2 separate regions of the Homo sapiens genome follow, and region 1 is linked to region 2. The links come from fine-mapping of genetic effects on gene expression. A gene starts in region 2. The other region holds a variant in brackets. All regions are shown on one strand. Distances are from middle to middle. Region 1 overlaps REEP1 (receptor accessory protein 1). Region 2 holds the start of REEP1 (receptor accessory protein 1).

The links. PIP is the estimated chance that this variant, and not a neighbour inherited with it, causes the effect.
Region 1: its variant is fine-mapped to the expression of REEP1 in tibial artery (GTEx, PIP 0.96).

Annotation. Positions count from the first base shown.
Region 1 is chr2:86,217,249-86,225,248 of GRCh38, forward strand. It overlaps REEP1 (receptor accessory protein 1), which reads right to left. Exons shown (of 9, transcript NM_001371279.1): 8 at 2,722-2,873. Among named protein-coding and RNA genes, the nearest start is that of MRPL35, 22 kb to the left of the region's middle. RefSeq lists an enhancer at 918-1,212. The variant A/G (reference allele first, on the strand shown) is at 4,037.
Region 2 is chr2:86,333,480-86,342,391 of GRCh38, forward strand. REEP1 (receptor accessory protein 1) reads right to left here and starts at 4,147. Exons shown (of 9, transcript NM_001371279.1): 1 at 4,000-4,147. The coding sequence starts at 4,031.

The DNA.
Region 1 (8,000 bases), 120 kb before region 2:
ATCTCCGCAACAGGAAGCAATCATCAGAGTCCCATCCCACATATCGCATGAAGCTGAGCCCTTTGAGAGGCTGATGCCTCCCTCTTAAATTATGCTCCTCAATCTCCCAAGGGAACGGTTGTGCAGAATGACACATCTTTCTTGTTTCTGCCTGAGGAGCAAAATTATCTTAAATGATTCAGCAGAAAGAGACACCTCCGCATGCTTCCTTTGCTTTTGTTATTTCCTTTGGGAACCAGCCTAATGTGTTTTGGTACATGCCTCAAATTTCCATCATCAAATTTCCAGTCCCCTTTCTGGATGAGAAACCTCTTAATGTACAGCACACCACACCACAAAGGCAAACACCACCTTGAAGTACAGGTTGAATATCCCTTATCCGGAAATGCCTGGAGTCAGAAGTGTTTGGGATTTCAGATTTTTTTTTTTTTTTTTTCAGATTTTGGGATGTTTGCATATACATTCCAATTGAGCACCCCAATCTGAAAATCTGAGATTCAAAATGCTCCTATGAGCATGACCTTTGTGCGTCTTGTCCACACTCAAAGAATTTCAGATTTTTCGATTAGGGATGCTCAACTTATATGAAGGGCTCCACCTCATCTCTCCCACAAATGACTCTCAAGAGACCCCTCCTTCCATGGGATACACAGATCACAGGAGGAGTTCCTATTTCAATGAAAGTGAAGGGAACATTTTCTGGCACAGCACTTGAGGGGGTTCACACAACTGGCCCCAACCTACCCTTGGCCCCCGTGTCTGTCCACTTCTCTGTATACACAGAGAACTTCTTTCTCTACACTGTGCCCATTCATGCCTCTATTCCTTCTGACTGGAAGCCCTTCCCTCCCTCCTCTGTCTTGCATATTTCTAGGCCTCTTGAGGACCCAGCTCAAAAGTCACTTCTGCAAAGGTTTCCCGGAGCCCCTCCTGCCACTGCCCAGCCATGCACAACCAGGCATCGTCACCTCCTTTGTTCTCTCATGTTTTGTACATGTCCCCCAGCAGAGGACTTTGCACCCAGTGGGAAGGGAGTGTGTGGGGGCCCTGCTCACTCTCTCCCCACCAGACTGGGGACTTCCTGAGGGCAGGCCCATGTCGCATTCACCACCATTTCCTGGTAAGTGGCTCAGTGCTGGGCAGGCACATACAAGGCAGGAAGTGAATGAGCCAGAAAACAAGACTCAGGCCCTCTCATAGAGTCCTCATGCTACAGCCTTACCACTAGGAAATGCTTACCAGCCACCTCTGGACAGACACTGAAAACGGAAACAACGGAACCCACCTTTATAGTAATCTGCCTCTTGGCAGGCTGGTGAACTGTAAACAGTAAAGCAGTTTGTGCAGCTTTAATAAACAAAAGCAAAACAGCACAAACCCTTGGGCCTTAGAATTCTTTAGGCTGGGCTCCTCTCCCCATCAGGAGGCTGCCCAGGCCAGATTGCCCAGGCCAGACTCCTCCAGCAGTGTCCAAGCCCAGAACATCCTTTCCCAAACCCTCTAACTTTAAAAGGGATGCATGTGTGCCTCACCTTGCAAAGGAACCTGATGAACTGCACATGGAGGTGGTCATAATTACAGTCCTAACAAATAAGAATGCTAGGCTGCTCAGTGTCTGCAGAAGGGAACATTTCAAGGCATCTCCCCATATAAGTCTCACAAGGGTCTGTACGGAGACTTCCTATTTGCTTCAGATGGCCTCTCAGGCCGTGATACTCAGCAGATGGGGAATAGGAGAGGAGACCTTAGGAAGCAGAGAGAAAGACTGGGGTCCCTGCACCTGTGCTCATGACTGGTGACTCCCTACCCACATCACAGAGCAAGGCCCAGGAGGCTCCAGGCTCAGCCCTCCTGCTGCCAGAACTCCATCCACATCCTACAACTGAAAATAGCATATATGTCAAGGGTATTGGTTTTGGTAACCCTAAAGGGCTATACCCCTTCACTAACATTTCATGAATAGCTACTTTATACCAGGCACTATATGCTGTGTCTTGGAGATACAGCGATGAACAAGCCTTGTTCTTATTTATAAAAACTTTTCAAATAACACATTCTGAGTTTTCTTCCCCCAAAACAGTCAATTTGGGTTGTTTTTCACTTGTACGTCAACTTAGAGTGGTAGTTGTTAATACCTGGAAAAACCAAAACAAAACAATAAAGACCTAGATACTTTACCACTCTCCTATTTGTTTTTCTTTTCTTTTTTTTTTTTTTTTTGAGAAGGAGTCTCGCTGTGTCATCCCGGCTGGAGTGCAGCAGTGCAGTCTCACTGCAACCTCCTCCTCCTGGGTTCAAGCGAGTCTCCTGCCTCAGTTTCCCAAGCAGCTGGGACTACAGGTGCGCGCCACTACACCCGGCTAATTTTTGTATTTTCAGTAGATAAGGGGTTTTGCCATGTTGGCCAGGCTGGTCTCGAACTCCTGACCTCAGGTGATCCACCTGCCTCGGCCTCCCAAAGTGCTGGGATTACAGGCATAAGCCACTGCACCCGGCTCACGCTCCTATTTCTAAATGAAATTAATAGGATTTCCTCTCCTTGGCAAGTAGCTGGATGCTATCCAGTGACTGGTTCTGCTTGTTTGATGGAAGGAGATCTTTCCACCCCAGGTATTGAGGAGATGTTGGTGCCCCAAGAGATGCTGCTCCCAGGACCCCCAATCTCCAGGGCATAGCCTTTGGACAAACACACTCCAACCCACAGCCCCAGACACTGTGTACCTCCAGGGGCAATTCCATCCTTCGAGGTGCTTTATACTTGTACATGAAATCCAGCAGGTCTTCCTCCTCGTCGTCAGAAAACGCCAATGGGTTTTGGACCTGGTGGGGCTCCCATGCCTTCATACCACCCTCATTCACATCTCCCTCAACCACTTAATGTCCATTTACAATCTACACAGATGAGACAAGGTATAGCAAGGAAGCATCAGTGCAGGGAGCAGGGAAGGGCAAGGTTAGGCACACAGCACAGCAAACCAGGCCTGTGAGGACAGCTGAGGCCCCTCGGTCTGAGGAAGCACTGATGTTTTGGGGGCCTCCTTACAGGGGATCTGGGATTGTGAAAGTGCAGTTGTGTGAATCTCCAGGCACTGTGCACAGAAACAACCACAGACTCAGAATCTACTGAATTCTGAGTAATTCAGTAGATTTACTAAGGGGGCATCACTTCCCTGGGTGAAGAAAGAAGCGGCTTTAACTGAGACACATCAATCCCTGCAGCTCAGTCCTGTGATCCCACACCAGGTGAATGCTCAGGGAAAGAATCTCCTCTAGAGAGGATGGCAGCAGTGATGTGGGGTGGGGTGGGAGAGCAGTTTCTATGTTGTACATACAAGCCATGTTGACATTGTATATTATACTTGCATATTCAATTCCAAGCATCCTGTAAGAGACAGGATATAAAATGCCAGGAGGCCTTAAGTGATAACCTTAAACAAAGCTATATAGTTTTTTTGTTTGTTTTTTTTTTTGCGAAGGCCCAGTCCTAGAGAAGCAGAGAAACCTAAGGAAGGAGAATCTGACAGATGCCTCTGCCAAAAAAAATGATAGCAAGATTCCTGTTTCAGTCTGCCTTGAATACATCTGCGGGAAAAGCTTCAGAATTAATTCATCTCATTGAACGCACAGTATTTTTTAAATGTTAAATGCTAATACATATTCCATGTCATCTGCTAGGCGGTTCTTAGTTGAGATGTAAAATATCTTCTGCCCCTACCCAGCTTATCTGGTATCACACACACACATTTTTCTATGCTGCATCTATTGTTTTTACCTAGAATCACAGAATGCAAGACTAAGGGGTTCTCAAGTCATCTGGTCCAATCACCGTGAGGCCTCCAGATAGAAACCACAGCTCTTCTTGAGACACCCTGCTCCTAAGAACATATTCAGCCACCGAATGTGCTCTCTCTCCATCAACAGTGGACTTGCTAGACTATACCACCACCAGGCGTGGAGTAAAAAAACAGACAACTGAACCCTAATCTTGGGCAGCTTTACCAGTTACCACTGCTGTGCTCCCCAACAGCCAGCAGGA[A/G]GCAGCACAACATGCAAAGCTGAATTTTAGGCTGGGGTGTGATTGGTTCAGACTGGGCCTTAGTAAGTAAAGTCCTGAGATCACTGATGTTCCTTTGATTTTTAAATTACTATTATTATTTTATTTCTACTCTGCACTTCCCTCAGCTTATTTACTCTGGGCTTAGTTTGTCCTCTGCTCCCTTCCTCTGTCCTAATCAGCTGCATCCTGTTGAGCACAAAGACCAGTGACTCCAGGGAGCCCTCGCTGAATACTCTGACCCTCCCTGGCCTCCCCACTCTGAGACCCGACAGTGCTTGGAGGCTGTGCCACACAGCTTGTGTTGGGTGCCCTGGTCCTCATGTCAGTCTCATTGCCTCAGCCAACAGAAGGCATCCTGAGACTGGGGGGCCATGGCTGATCCTCCCTCAGTCTCTCTGAGCACCTGACCCAGGGCTGGGCACACAGTGGCCACTCATCAACTAAACTAAATAGAATCCTGAAGTCATCTCAGAGAGCTCAGCTCTAGTCCCAAGTCAGAGCTTGACACCCCCATTAACCAAACCAGGAAATTCCTTCTGGACACAGATACCTCCTGCCTGGCAGGAGGGAAAAAAGACCAAAAGCCCTCAGACCAAGGCAAAAACTGCAGAAGCAGCCTGGCCAGCTCCACCCCAGCAGCCAACTCCATGACATGGAAGTGGGGTGGGTACCGGTTCGAGACTGTGCCTCTGCATATGCTGTACCCTCCACATCCAGGTCCAGGGCTTTCCCTGTACTGATGGTTGTGGGTGTCAGAAGGTGGCCCAAAGTCACCGTGAGATCCTCAGGCATCTAACAACCCAGGCTAGTTATCCAGTCTGGATTCACTGAGGCTGAGCAATGAACTCACACTTACCAAAATCACCATCATCACTATAATCTCAGGACTGAAACCAAAATGGCTTTGTGCATGTTCTCCACTGCAAGGATTGCAGGGTAGAAAAGAAATGACCCTCCAGCCCAGTAGGAGTGATGGTTCAAGGACAACCCAGATATCCAAGCAGGAATAGAAACAAGTGCTCAGCTCAGCAGAGGCTGGGAGCAAAAGAGGCCAGTGTGGGCAGTGAGGGAGCCAGAATAGCCTCAGGAAGAAGCTACAGAGAGAACCTCCTAAGAAGATAAGACATCTCCTAGTCACTGTGTCCGCTGAGCATTTCTGCCAAGAGTGTTGTCTATAATATTTGCCTTACTCTCAGAACCAGTGAGAATAAACATTCTAAATAAGACAAGCTTCCACGCCTCTAGCTGGCTGTTGCACAGTGGACTGAATCTCTTAATAATTGTATTTCCCTCTTTGCAGTGGTTTCAAGGAAGCCAGGTGTCTCAACAGTCTACACCTTGATGGTATGCATTTAAAATGTCCTTCTCCCCACTGATTCCATCTTACTTGCCCACTCCCTTCTCCCCATGCTTCAATTTTCTTACTTTGATTTGCTACTTTAGATATATTTCCACAAGTAGACCTAACTCCTTTTTATATCAGGAAGGAGTATAAATGGAGAAATGAACCCCACAGAACATAGTCCCAAAAGAGGGGCACCAGGAGGAGCAGGAGAGTGAGTAGCTGGGTAGAAAATCCCATGCTCTGCCTCCTCCATGTTCTTGTCCCTGAAGATCTAAAGATTGGTGACCCAACAGGTCCTTACCCCTGGCAACAGGCCTGAAAGAGTATTGCTATCCACATCTTAGTACTCTAATTGGCTCCCAGAGACAATGTGTGTGGGAGGAGGGTCTCCCGCCCAAGGTCATGGCCATAACAACTTGCAAACCTCAGGTGATGGTGGCCACGGCCTTGAGCCTGCAGAGCTGCCACTATGATGCCCAAAGCTGGGTTGCTTCTAGGAAAGGGCAGGGTTTCTGCCGTCTTCCACAGCAGGGGAATGGGTGTGTGGCCTTGGCTGATGTTTCTGTATTAGCAAATGTGTCAGCAGGGCTACAGCAGCCAGGGCTGCAGGCTCCACCTCTTCTCTCTGTGGGGAAGGGAGGGAGGGAGAAACTGGCAGAGCCTCTCAGCCCTTTAAAGGCCTGTGTAGCCTGCAGTGGGCCCAGGGCTGCCGCACCCCTGCAGTGCAGCAGAACCTCCCCCAGGTTAGCAAAAACATCCCACACAGCACACATTAGCGGGAGCATTAATGGAAGGCAGCAAATGTCTGCAGAAGAGCACGCCTGTCTGGAACACTTACATCCACGTCCCCAACAGCACCGAGGAGAGAGAAAAGAACATTCCGTTAGAGAAGGGTCTTTGGCACTAAAACTCACACGTGTGCACCATGCACACATCCCCATCCACACACACTCACACACAGACACACTCACATACACACATGTAGACACACACATGCTCACTCACTTCCCATGCTCTAAACCTCAGGCAGCTCCTCCTGCTATAATCAGAAGGACACTGCCCAGAGGCCACACTCAAAATGCAATTCTCTCTCTCTCTCTCTCTCTCTCTCTGAGAGGACAAAAAGGATGACTGCTTTTAAAAATTATGTCCTACATGCTTGATTTTAAAAGGGGGGGAGGGACACCTCTATGACTAACCACACAGGCAGTAATCCAGAGTTCAGTTCTATATGACATAGAGGTAGGCAGAGAAAAAAAAAAAGAGAGAGAGAGATAATAATAGACACACAGAAAAAGAGAGACAAAGACATGCAGAAAACAATAGGGAATCAGTTGACAAATGGGGCAGGAACAGAGCAAAGATGGGAAAAGAATGTTCTGGCATCTGAGATGTGCAGCTTAGAATAGAGGCTGCTGCCCCTGGGGCCTCTAAGCTCTGTCACTGCCCTAAAAGGCACTTAGCAGCCTCCGAAATGCCTCCTTTCCCTACCCCCATCATGAATTAAGACCTGAATTTACAACTCCTAGAAAATGTTCCTGTCTGCTGAGGGATCCTGGGGCTCTGCATGGCCCCAGAGGTAATTTGAATCTTCCCAGGCTTTGGCCTGAGTGAGCACCCCTTGTGACAACATTTCAGGGGACCAGGAGGAAAGTGTCCCCGACAACTGTGAAATCCTCTTACTGCTTAAGAGTCAGCCTATAGCCCCAGGTGCAAGACAGACCTCCCCCAACACCATCTGCCACCACTGCACAATCCAGTAGAGACTGTCAGAGCTGGGAGGACCAAGGGACACCTCATGGAGGGGGAGACTGAGGCCTGCAGAGTGCAGGGGCTTTCCCAAGGCCTCAGAGGGAATGGTGTAGGCCAATCATCAAAGGGTTCCTTGCATGCAGACCTGAGAGCCAGGGCACAGGTATTAAGAGGCCCTTGGAGAGGCGGAGGTCCAAGAAAGGAAGGGCTAGGACAACGGCTTCCAGGTCTTGAGGCCACCACCAGGCCTCACCTGCTTCCCGCTGTCCAGCAACCCCCATCCCAGCAGCAACCAACCTGCTCGGGGATAAGGAACCAGAACTTGGACACTGAATCCTGGACACACTCTTATGCACATGCAGCCTTCCAGAACTATTCAGTTCCTACAATCAACCACAGCTCTATTGAAATGCACTGGAAACACTGTGTCTGATCATGAAACCACCAGATGTCATGGCAGGGAAGGGCTTCTGAGAGCAGCACAGAGCAGTGTCAGGGGAAGAATGGAGGACAGGGCAGCCACTCTCCCCGACCCCCAAGTGCCAATCTCCCAGAATTAGAGGCTTTTGGAATGGCTCACAGAATTTGCAGACTCAAAACTACAGTGTGAATAGACAGAAATCCCTGCAATTGCCTGGAGCCACTGGCACCACAGGGTCATTTCCCATGAACTAGTGTGTCCACCAGGCCAGCGTCTAGTGCCCGGTGCTGGAAACAGCTGAACGCAGCCCCTTCATTTCCAACTTGGACCAGGAGGCCCCACAGGGACACAGGGTTAGTCAGAGCTGGGCTGGGACGCTTCTCTCCATCTGCAGCCCTGCTCAGACTCCTCTGTCAGTTCAGTTT
Region 2 (8,912 bases):
ATTCAGAAAATTCTGTGGACTTAGAACTCTCTTTCCCCCATGTAGTGAGCTGGGGTTTTAGTCTACTAATCCCATAAGGGGTGAGAAGCTCTTGATCCGTTCAGCCAACATTCTGGGCCTTGGCCAAGACAATGAGGCAATACCTGCTCCTTAGAATAATGCTTCAAAATGGCATATTCTTCCAAGAAGTCACAGAGCAACGTTGGTATCCCCCCTCCAAAAGGGTGCACAAAAACATGCTCTCCCCAGTTTGAAATTCATTCATGCCTAGGCCTTGAGTTGTATGTAAAGAAAATGAAAGGAGGCAAGCAGGCAAGTCCTAAATAAGCCCCTGTGTCCCATGAAGGTATCAACCTGGTTCTGAGTGCTATTGCACTGAGTATCTCTTCCTTAATTCTTTACAGGCTGAGCCAAGGAAGTTAGGAGAAAGAGAGCTGGCAAGAAATAAGCATCTCAAACTGGTCCTCACTCTAAGAGCCTTGCCCGTGGGCACAAGCCTGTCTTGATGCCTGCTGACCTCCGTCCCCAGGGGACAGCAGTAGCCAGCCACTCTGCTTGTCCCCAGGGCCTAGGATTTCCTTCAACACAACCAACCTTCACTCAGTGCATTCAGGTGCCAGATACTTTGTGAAAGACCCATGGCAGGGATAAAGCGGTTGTAAAGGGAAACAAGCCACAATTGCTTTCTTCAAAATGCTCACGGCCAGTAGCAGCAGAGACAACCACGAGCACTGGCTGGCTGTCCCTGGAGGCCATCAGCTTGTTGTGATACCTCTGGTCGGATGGTTGGGACCACACAAAGACAGGAAGACACTCCCTCTCTATCCTCACAACACAGTGATAGGTCTTCCTTACATGTTCTTTGATGTGACAGAGGCTTACAAAACCATGAAAAGATTACTTATACAAAACGTGACTCGCGGATAAAACCATAGGATGCTCCCATACCAGAGGTCTAGGGAGCTTGAAAGAGATGTTTTTCTCAGTGGGGAGTGAAGGTGGAAAAAGCACTGGACTGGACTAAAAATCCAGAGCCTGTTTTCTTCACCAGCTCATCTTGTGTCCCTGAGCAAGGCATATTTCCTCTGCAGTTTTACAGATGAGGGGGAGGACTAGATCAGTTGTTTTTATTAGCAGTAAAACACATATATTTTTCTGAATTGTATTTTATCTAGAACCCCAATATATAAGACAAACAAAAAGGGAACTGCTTGGGTTGAATCAGGGATGAGGAGCCCAGAGCCCATCTGCTCAGGCTGGGTGGCCCTCAGGGAACCCAGTTTGAAAACCACAGGAGTAAATTAAGTCTGAGAGCCCCTCTCATAGGGTTCCCGGGGAGGACAGAAGGAGGGACTCATCATTGATTTAGTGCTCTCCGTGGTGCTTGGCAATTTATATATCAAGTGTCATGGAAATCTTTGCAACAGCAACATGAGGTTAACTAGCTGTGGACTAGCATCTGCTCTGATCTGAGTTGTGAACTGGGATCTTCTGGCAAGAGGCAAAACTGGGATTTGAACCATGGGCGTTCTGACTCCAAACACAGTATTCCTCCCCTTGATAAGAAGTTCCTCAAGGTATGTGGAGTGTAGAATATTGGGCTGAATCAATAATATCCTTGAATTACAAATATATGTACATATATGCAATACAGGAAAATTTCTTGAAGAATATGCCCTCCATCATTATTATTAGTTATCTCTGTGTGGTGGAAATGTGGATGATTTTCAGTTTATCTTTTCTAATTTTCCTGTAATTAACAAATATTGTCTTCATGAAACAGGTATTGCTTATTAAAAATGATGTTCATAACTCATAATCAATATGCTTATGCTAGGTTTCTACAGGGAATTAGGGACTGGGGGATAAGTGGTATCCCTGACCTTTTGGACTTGATAGTGGAAGTAACAATCCCAAATCCCATCAACTCTCCTTGGGCCACATAATGCTGTTCATTTAAATTCTCTGAAGTCTCGGTTCTAGGGAGTGTGGTTGTTTTAGAAAGCAACAGCACATCCCTGAGACACCTCCCAAATATATGCCTCTCCTCTCCACCCCCATCAGTTGCTCATTGTAAAAAAGGGGGAGGAGCCGGGCGTGGTAGCTCACGCCTGTAATCCCAGAACTTTGGGAGGCCGAAGCGGGCGGATCACTAGGTCAGGAGTTCAAGACCAGGCTGGCCAACATGGTGAAACCCCGTCTCTACTAAAAATACAAAAATTAGCTGGGCGTGGTGGCAGGCGCTTGTAATCCCAGCTACTCGGGAGGCTGAGGCAGGAGAATCGCTTGAACCCAGGAGGCGGAGGCTTCAGTGAGCCGAGACTGTGCCACTGCACTCTCCAGCCTGGGCGACAGAGCGAGACTCGGTCTCAAAAAAAAAAAAAAAAAAAGGGCAGGGGTGAGGGAGGTGCTAATAAAACTAATGATAGTCACATGACCCAGTGCTAATAAAACTAATGATAGTCACATGACCCAGGATCAGATGCCCTCACTCCCAGCCCAGCAGGACCTACAGAGAGCCCACCAGCCAGGCCAGCTCAACTCTCCAGCCCCACCCTGAGGGCTTCCCAGAAGCCACTGGCAATATCGATCCCAGAGAGGAAACACCACCCTGAAGGCAAGACAGTGTTGGTCAGGCATGAGGCTGGGCAAGGCGTGTCAGCCACTTTCCTGTATTATTCATGTCGGCTCTGCCAGCAGAAATCTTCTAAATATTTAACATGCCACCTCAAGGTGCAGCGCAAACACCCCGCAGTCAGGAACAGCTGTGGAGAGGCCTTCACGGAATGACTTGGGGGCTGAGAGGCACAGACACTGGCTTTGGGAGGAAAGCCCTGAATGGTGGCGGGAGACAATGCTGAGATCCACTTCGGAAGGGAAAATCAGTAAAGAAGGGAAGGGAGATGGGTGGTGTTTCAAAACGTGGGGAGTGATGGTGCACAATCACTGGGGTCCAGAGCCCCGTGTTCTCAGACAAAGAAAAAGCCCGAGGTGCCTGCCACCCTCCTCCCCGCCTTAGACTCCCCACACCCATTTCAGCCCCTGCTAGCTACAGCAGGTGGCAAATCTGTTCTGACTCAGGCCAGGATGGTTAGGGAAGAACAGGGACTTGGAACAGCCACGTCTATCTCCAAAGGAGAATAAATCCACCGGGGAAGCTCTTCAAACGCCTACAGGTCCTGGGGCTTGAAGGAGAAAATCGGCCCCCACGCCCACCCCCAATGACTTCACACAGACCTCACCCTAGATGACTCTGCGCTCTCCTGCAAGGCCTGGGAGGTGTCATCGCCACCATGCGGGTGGCTGTCACTTGAAAATTTCCCGTGCATTCCTGGAGGTACCTGCCCCTGTCTCTCAATCCCCTGCAAAAGGAGTCGGAGCCGGGGGCTCCAGGCGTTTACTCCAAGATTCACATGCGTCTTCCCATGTCCCAGCTGCCTTTGCCGCTGTCGATGCAGACACCTAAAAAGGAGGATTTTTCCAACCCCACTGGGAGCCCCGCCTCTGCCTCTCCACCCGTTCCGCGCTGACCCTCCAGGCAGCGCCCCTGGTTCGTCTGCGCTGTCCTTTCCACCTGACAAAAGCTGGGGCGGCGGGGCGCGGCGCCGGGCGACCTCACATTTCTGCCAAAGGAGAGAGACGCGTGTCCGCGGTGCGCCCATTCGGGGCCTCTGCAAATCGACCGAGCTGAGGAACAAAGCGGCCAGCGCGCGGCGAGACGCAGCCCCCACGGAACCCCCGAGCGCCCCAGCCCTCGCCGTCCCGGCCCAGCCCCCCGCAAGCGGCCGCCGGCGCCGGCTGCCTCCTGGGCAGCAGCCGCGTCCTGCGCCGCCCGTCCGCCCGCAGGCGTCCTCGGCGGCTACTGTACCTGCTAAATTTAGCTGCGCCGGGTATTAATAGCCCGAGCCACTGGGACCGGGCGCTGTAGGGGCGCGCGCAGCCCGGGGCCGGGGGCGGGGAGGGAGGGGACGGAGGGGCGCGGGGGAGAAGGCCACTTACACCACCAGCCTGGAGATGATCCATGACACCATGGCGGGCAGGCGGGCGGGCGAGGCCCGGGCGGCGCGGCTCGGCTAGGCTGCGGGCGGCGCGGGCTGCTGCGGCGTTCCCGGAACGTCAGTCAGCTCACGGCAGCCGCCGCCAGACTGAGCGCGCCCGCCGCCCTGCCCGGCGTTCGCGCGTTGGCGCAGCCGCGGCACGTTCTGGCGGCGGCGGCGGCGGCCCCAGCCCCCCGGGGCTCGGCGGGCCCGCAGCGATTGGGCGGTGAGCTGGTCAGGGCACCCGCGGGCCCGCCCCGTCCCGCTCGCCCTGGCCCCCGGCTGAAGGCGGGCGCGTCCTGCGCGCTCCCCGGGGCACCGGCCCCGCCAAAGGAACCCTGCAGCGGCCCCGTTTGCAGGGCAGGGACCCGGGTGCTGCCCCACCCTCAGCGTTCCAGCGGAGAAACTGAAGTCCGAACCTGAACCTCGGGAATCTGTCTGCACCTGTCTAGGTGGGATGCTGTCATCCCTCATTCAGCTAGTGCGTTAGCCTCATAAAGGGTTTACCTGGATCCAGACCTAACCTCTTCAGTCTGTCCGTTGCTCAGCACTTTCTGCATAAGAAACAAACCTGGGCGCTTGCCTCCCTACTTAAAATTCTACAGAGTCCCTATATGATCGTGGTACCTGCCTAGAACCGTGTTGCCAAGACCATTCCCCCAAATAGTCCTCTAGCTCTTTTCCCTCCAGGCATCTTGGACTCAAATATTTGCTGTTTCTTCTTCCCTGTCAGTACACGCCACGCCTCATCGTCCTGCCTTGGTTTGATTCAGCTCCTTCTTCTAGGCTGGGCTGAAGGGCTACTTCTTCCTAGGGAAGGCCTTTCCTTGGGGGCTGCTCCGGGCCCTAGGAGGAGACTAGAAGCTGCGACTGCTTAGCACCAGTGCCCCGCTGAGCCACGTTGAACTCTTAGGCAAAAGGGAACTTGTGCACCCTATATAAACGTTTTTATGTATTTTTTAAAATACCGTATTAAATATTATGGTGGTTTTTTTTGTTGTTGTTGTTTTTTTATGAGACAGAGTCTCGCTCTGGGGTGCAGTGGCGCGATCTCGGCTCACTGCAAGCTCCGCCTCCCGGGTTCAAGCGATTCTTCTGCCTCAGCCTCATGAGTAGCTGAGATTACAGGAGTGCGCCACCACGCCCAGCTAATTTTTGTATTTTTAGTAGAGACGGGGTTTCACCATGTTGTCCAGGCTGGTCTCAAACTCCTGACCTCGTGATCCGCCCGCCTTGGCCTCCCAAAGTGCTGGGATTACAGGAGTGAGCCACCTATTATGTATTTTAGTTGCTGAATTTTATGGCACCTCTTAAATGTTGCACCCTCACTGAGCGCCTCACTCTGCTCACCCTAGTCCCGGCCGCAGATAGTACATTATTCTGTTACACTGGAAACGCTTTGTCCTCTACTCCTAGGCTCTGCTGCTGCTTTTCCCACCCTCCAATAGCTTAGGTTCTGCGTGGTGCTCCCAGCGCCCTGTCCTTTGCTGATGATGGTGTCATGTATAATTCAGTGTCAGATGTGAGAAGCGCAGGAGACAGCTTAGTACTCTCAGATGTAGCAGAATCTGTGCGTGCGTGTGCCTGATATAGTCAGAAGAAAGACTTCACGGACAACAAAGGGACTGCAGATGAGACATGCTCTCATATCTCAGGTCTCCAAAGAACCCATAAAATAGCTGTAATGTAGCAGTTTTTTCATGCTGCCTTGACCCAGTTTTGAGGCTCAGGCTGGAGGCTGGTCAGTTCCCCTTCTCCAGCAGTCTATTAACTGCATACCCCCAACCACTTCCGTTAGCAGGCTCTCACACGCGGGACACTATACACCTGTCCAGGGCTAGGCACCAAACAACTAGTTACAGCCCCTGTACTTCAGAACCCGCTGAAATTATCCAAATTAGCCTATCCTATATCTGCTTGCCTTATTTCACTCTTTCCTTCCCTCAGAAACCATGATAAAGATGTTTGTCCACAATTCCCCTCTCTCCCTCTCTCTGTGACAGACCCTGGCCCTGAGTGGACCTGCATGGTGTGCTGTGATCTCTCCAGGAAACTGTGGATATAAAAAGCTCTAAAACTCTTTCTAGCTTCTCTCTCTTGATCTGTGTCTGGCCCCACCATATCTCACTCAAGGTAAGGTTATACGGGTAAAACAATGCTCCACGGGGAAAAGCTTTCCATACTTACTAGGCAAAGAGAACACCAAAGCTAGATCAGGACAGCACCCAGCACAGAGGACCTTCCTGAGACCTCCCTTCCCCTCCATCCATACCCCTCACCTATGCTCCCTGCGTCAGAAAGGCTGTTACCCATCTTGCAGGGGGAGCAGCGGAGGGATGGACTACTGTGGTTCAAAGAGACCCTGTTGGTGGGAAAATAAAGAAGAGGTGACCACATGCTTGTTCCCTACTCCCTATAAGTGGAATTCTCAGATTTGACTATTGCACAGGACTGAGCATTTTAATTACCAAAATGAAACTATTCATGGGGTTAAAATATCTTGAGGTCTTTTCATTAGCTGAAGAGGACCAGAAAACTAGTGAGACCAACACATATTTCTCACAAGGGATGAGAAAGAACTTGTCCATAGAGCGGACTTGGATGGGTAGAGGAGGGAAAAGAAGAAAGAAAGAAAGAAAGTTGCTTTTGTACTGCATTCTGTCTCTTTCAGTGTAACTGTTACACTTATTGTATCTCTCTATCCTGGACCTGCTCTTGTTTGTCCTTGGCCCTGGAAAACATGTGGCCAGGGAACGGACTCCACCTTCTAGACAATGGAACTCTTACAGCTCTATCAGTTTCTTGACTTCAAGTTCTTTTTCATAAGAACTGCTTTGATAATAGATGTCTCTCATCTGTTTTTACCCTGTACCCTTCCCCTTTCTTCTGGGAAGAGCTCTCTGTTTTTCACTGGGGAATGAGTCTCCCCATACTCCAACCTTAGAAACTGTGATTTTCTTATATATCCTCACTACCTTGATTGGCTTATGGGTGATCACCAAACAGAAACTGGGCCAACGATCTCCCTTGGGATTTTTAAAGTTGAAAATAGAAAAAAGAGAATTCCACTTTCTTCTATGAAGCATTGGCTGCTGTGGGAATTGTCCTCCCATTGCAAACAACTAGAAAAACAGGATCAAAAAAAAGAAACAACTGTTTTTCTTTACTTGTTTGTTTGAGACGGAGTCTCACTCTGTCGCCCAGGCTGGAGTGCAGTGCTGTGATCTCGGCTCACTGCAAGCTCCGCCTCCTAGGTTCACACCATTCTCCTGCCTCAGTCTCCCGAGTACCTGGGACTACAGGTAGCCACCAGTATGTCCAGCTAGTTTTTTGTATTTTTAGTAGAGATGAGACGGGGTTTCACCGTGTTAGTCAGGGTGGTCTCGATCTCCTGACCTCGTGATCCACCCTCCTCGGACTCCCAAAGTGCTGGGATTACAGGTGTGAGCCACCGTGCCCGGCAAGAAGCAACTGTTTTTAAGCATTGAACAACAGAGCACAGGACTGTGATAACTAAGAGAAGAGAAACAAATGAAGTGAGTCTTACGTCCGAGCTTACTGTCTCAAAGCAGTTTCCAGGCATCACTGTAGGGATGGAGAACCCAAACAGAGCCCAGAAATTTCACAGAACACAGGAGACAGATCAGAGTCCAGGGAAGCCAAAGTGGCTAGAATTTGTGAAGCAGAATATAAGAGTGATGGGAGATGATTAGAGAGAGAGTTGCAGAGATCTGCAGAGCAGTCACTTCAAGTCATTAGCTGAATACTGTCCTAGGCATGCATGGGTGAAATTCTATGAGGCCATGGGAAGAACTACCAGAAAGCAGTATGCCAAACAATTCCTGGAGCTCACACAGGGCTGGAAGTAATTTGTCTTCATACCAGCCAAAACAGAGACCTTTTATACACAAAGCATTGGCCAGAGTCCACAGAAGGGTATCATCTTAATGCAGGGGGAGGCTAAATTAGCCCTAAAATAAACACTTATCTGGTCCTGCCTTAACAAAACTTAAAAGCAATCTTCAAAAGGATCAAATTGATCTCAAGTAACTTAACTGTGCTCAGAGAAAAAAAAAAGTCCAAGATTAGTTACAAAACAAACAACAACAAAACCCAACACCCAATAAGATAAAATTCACAATGTCCAACATGCAAACAAAAATTATCAGGCATGCAAAGAAAATGACTTGTAAGCAGGTTGAAAAATCAACCAATAGAAACAGACCATGAAGTGACAGAAATAATGCAATAAGCAAATAAATACCTTCAATTTTATAATATTTGAACAGACATTTCACCAAAGAAAAAATACAAATGGAAAAACAAAAAGTACATGAAAAAAATATTCAACATCATTAATCATTAATTAGGGAAATACAAATTGAAATCACAAGAAGATATTACTGCACACATTTAAGAATGGCTACAATGAAAAAGACTGATCATTTCATGTTCTGGCAAGGATATGGAGCAACTGGAACTCTCATATGCTGCTGGTGGGAAAGTAAAATGATACTACTTTGAAAAATGGTTTTCTATATTTCAAAAAAAGTGGAAATTACTTTTGCCTCACACCCTTCCCCTTTCTTCTGGGAAGAACTCTCTACTTTTTTTGGTGAATGATTCTCCCCATGTTCCAACCTTAGAAACTGGTCAGACAGTTTCTTTTTTTTTTTTTTGAGATGGAGTCTGGCTGTGTTCCCCAGGCTGGAATGCAGTGGCACGATCTTGGCTTACCACAACCTCTGCCTCCCAGGTTCAAGCAACCCTCCTGCCTCAGCTTCCTGAGTAGCTGGGATTATAGGCATGTACCACCACACCCAGCTAATTAATATATTTTAGTAGAGACAGGGTTTCACCATGTTGGCCAGGCTG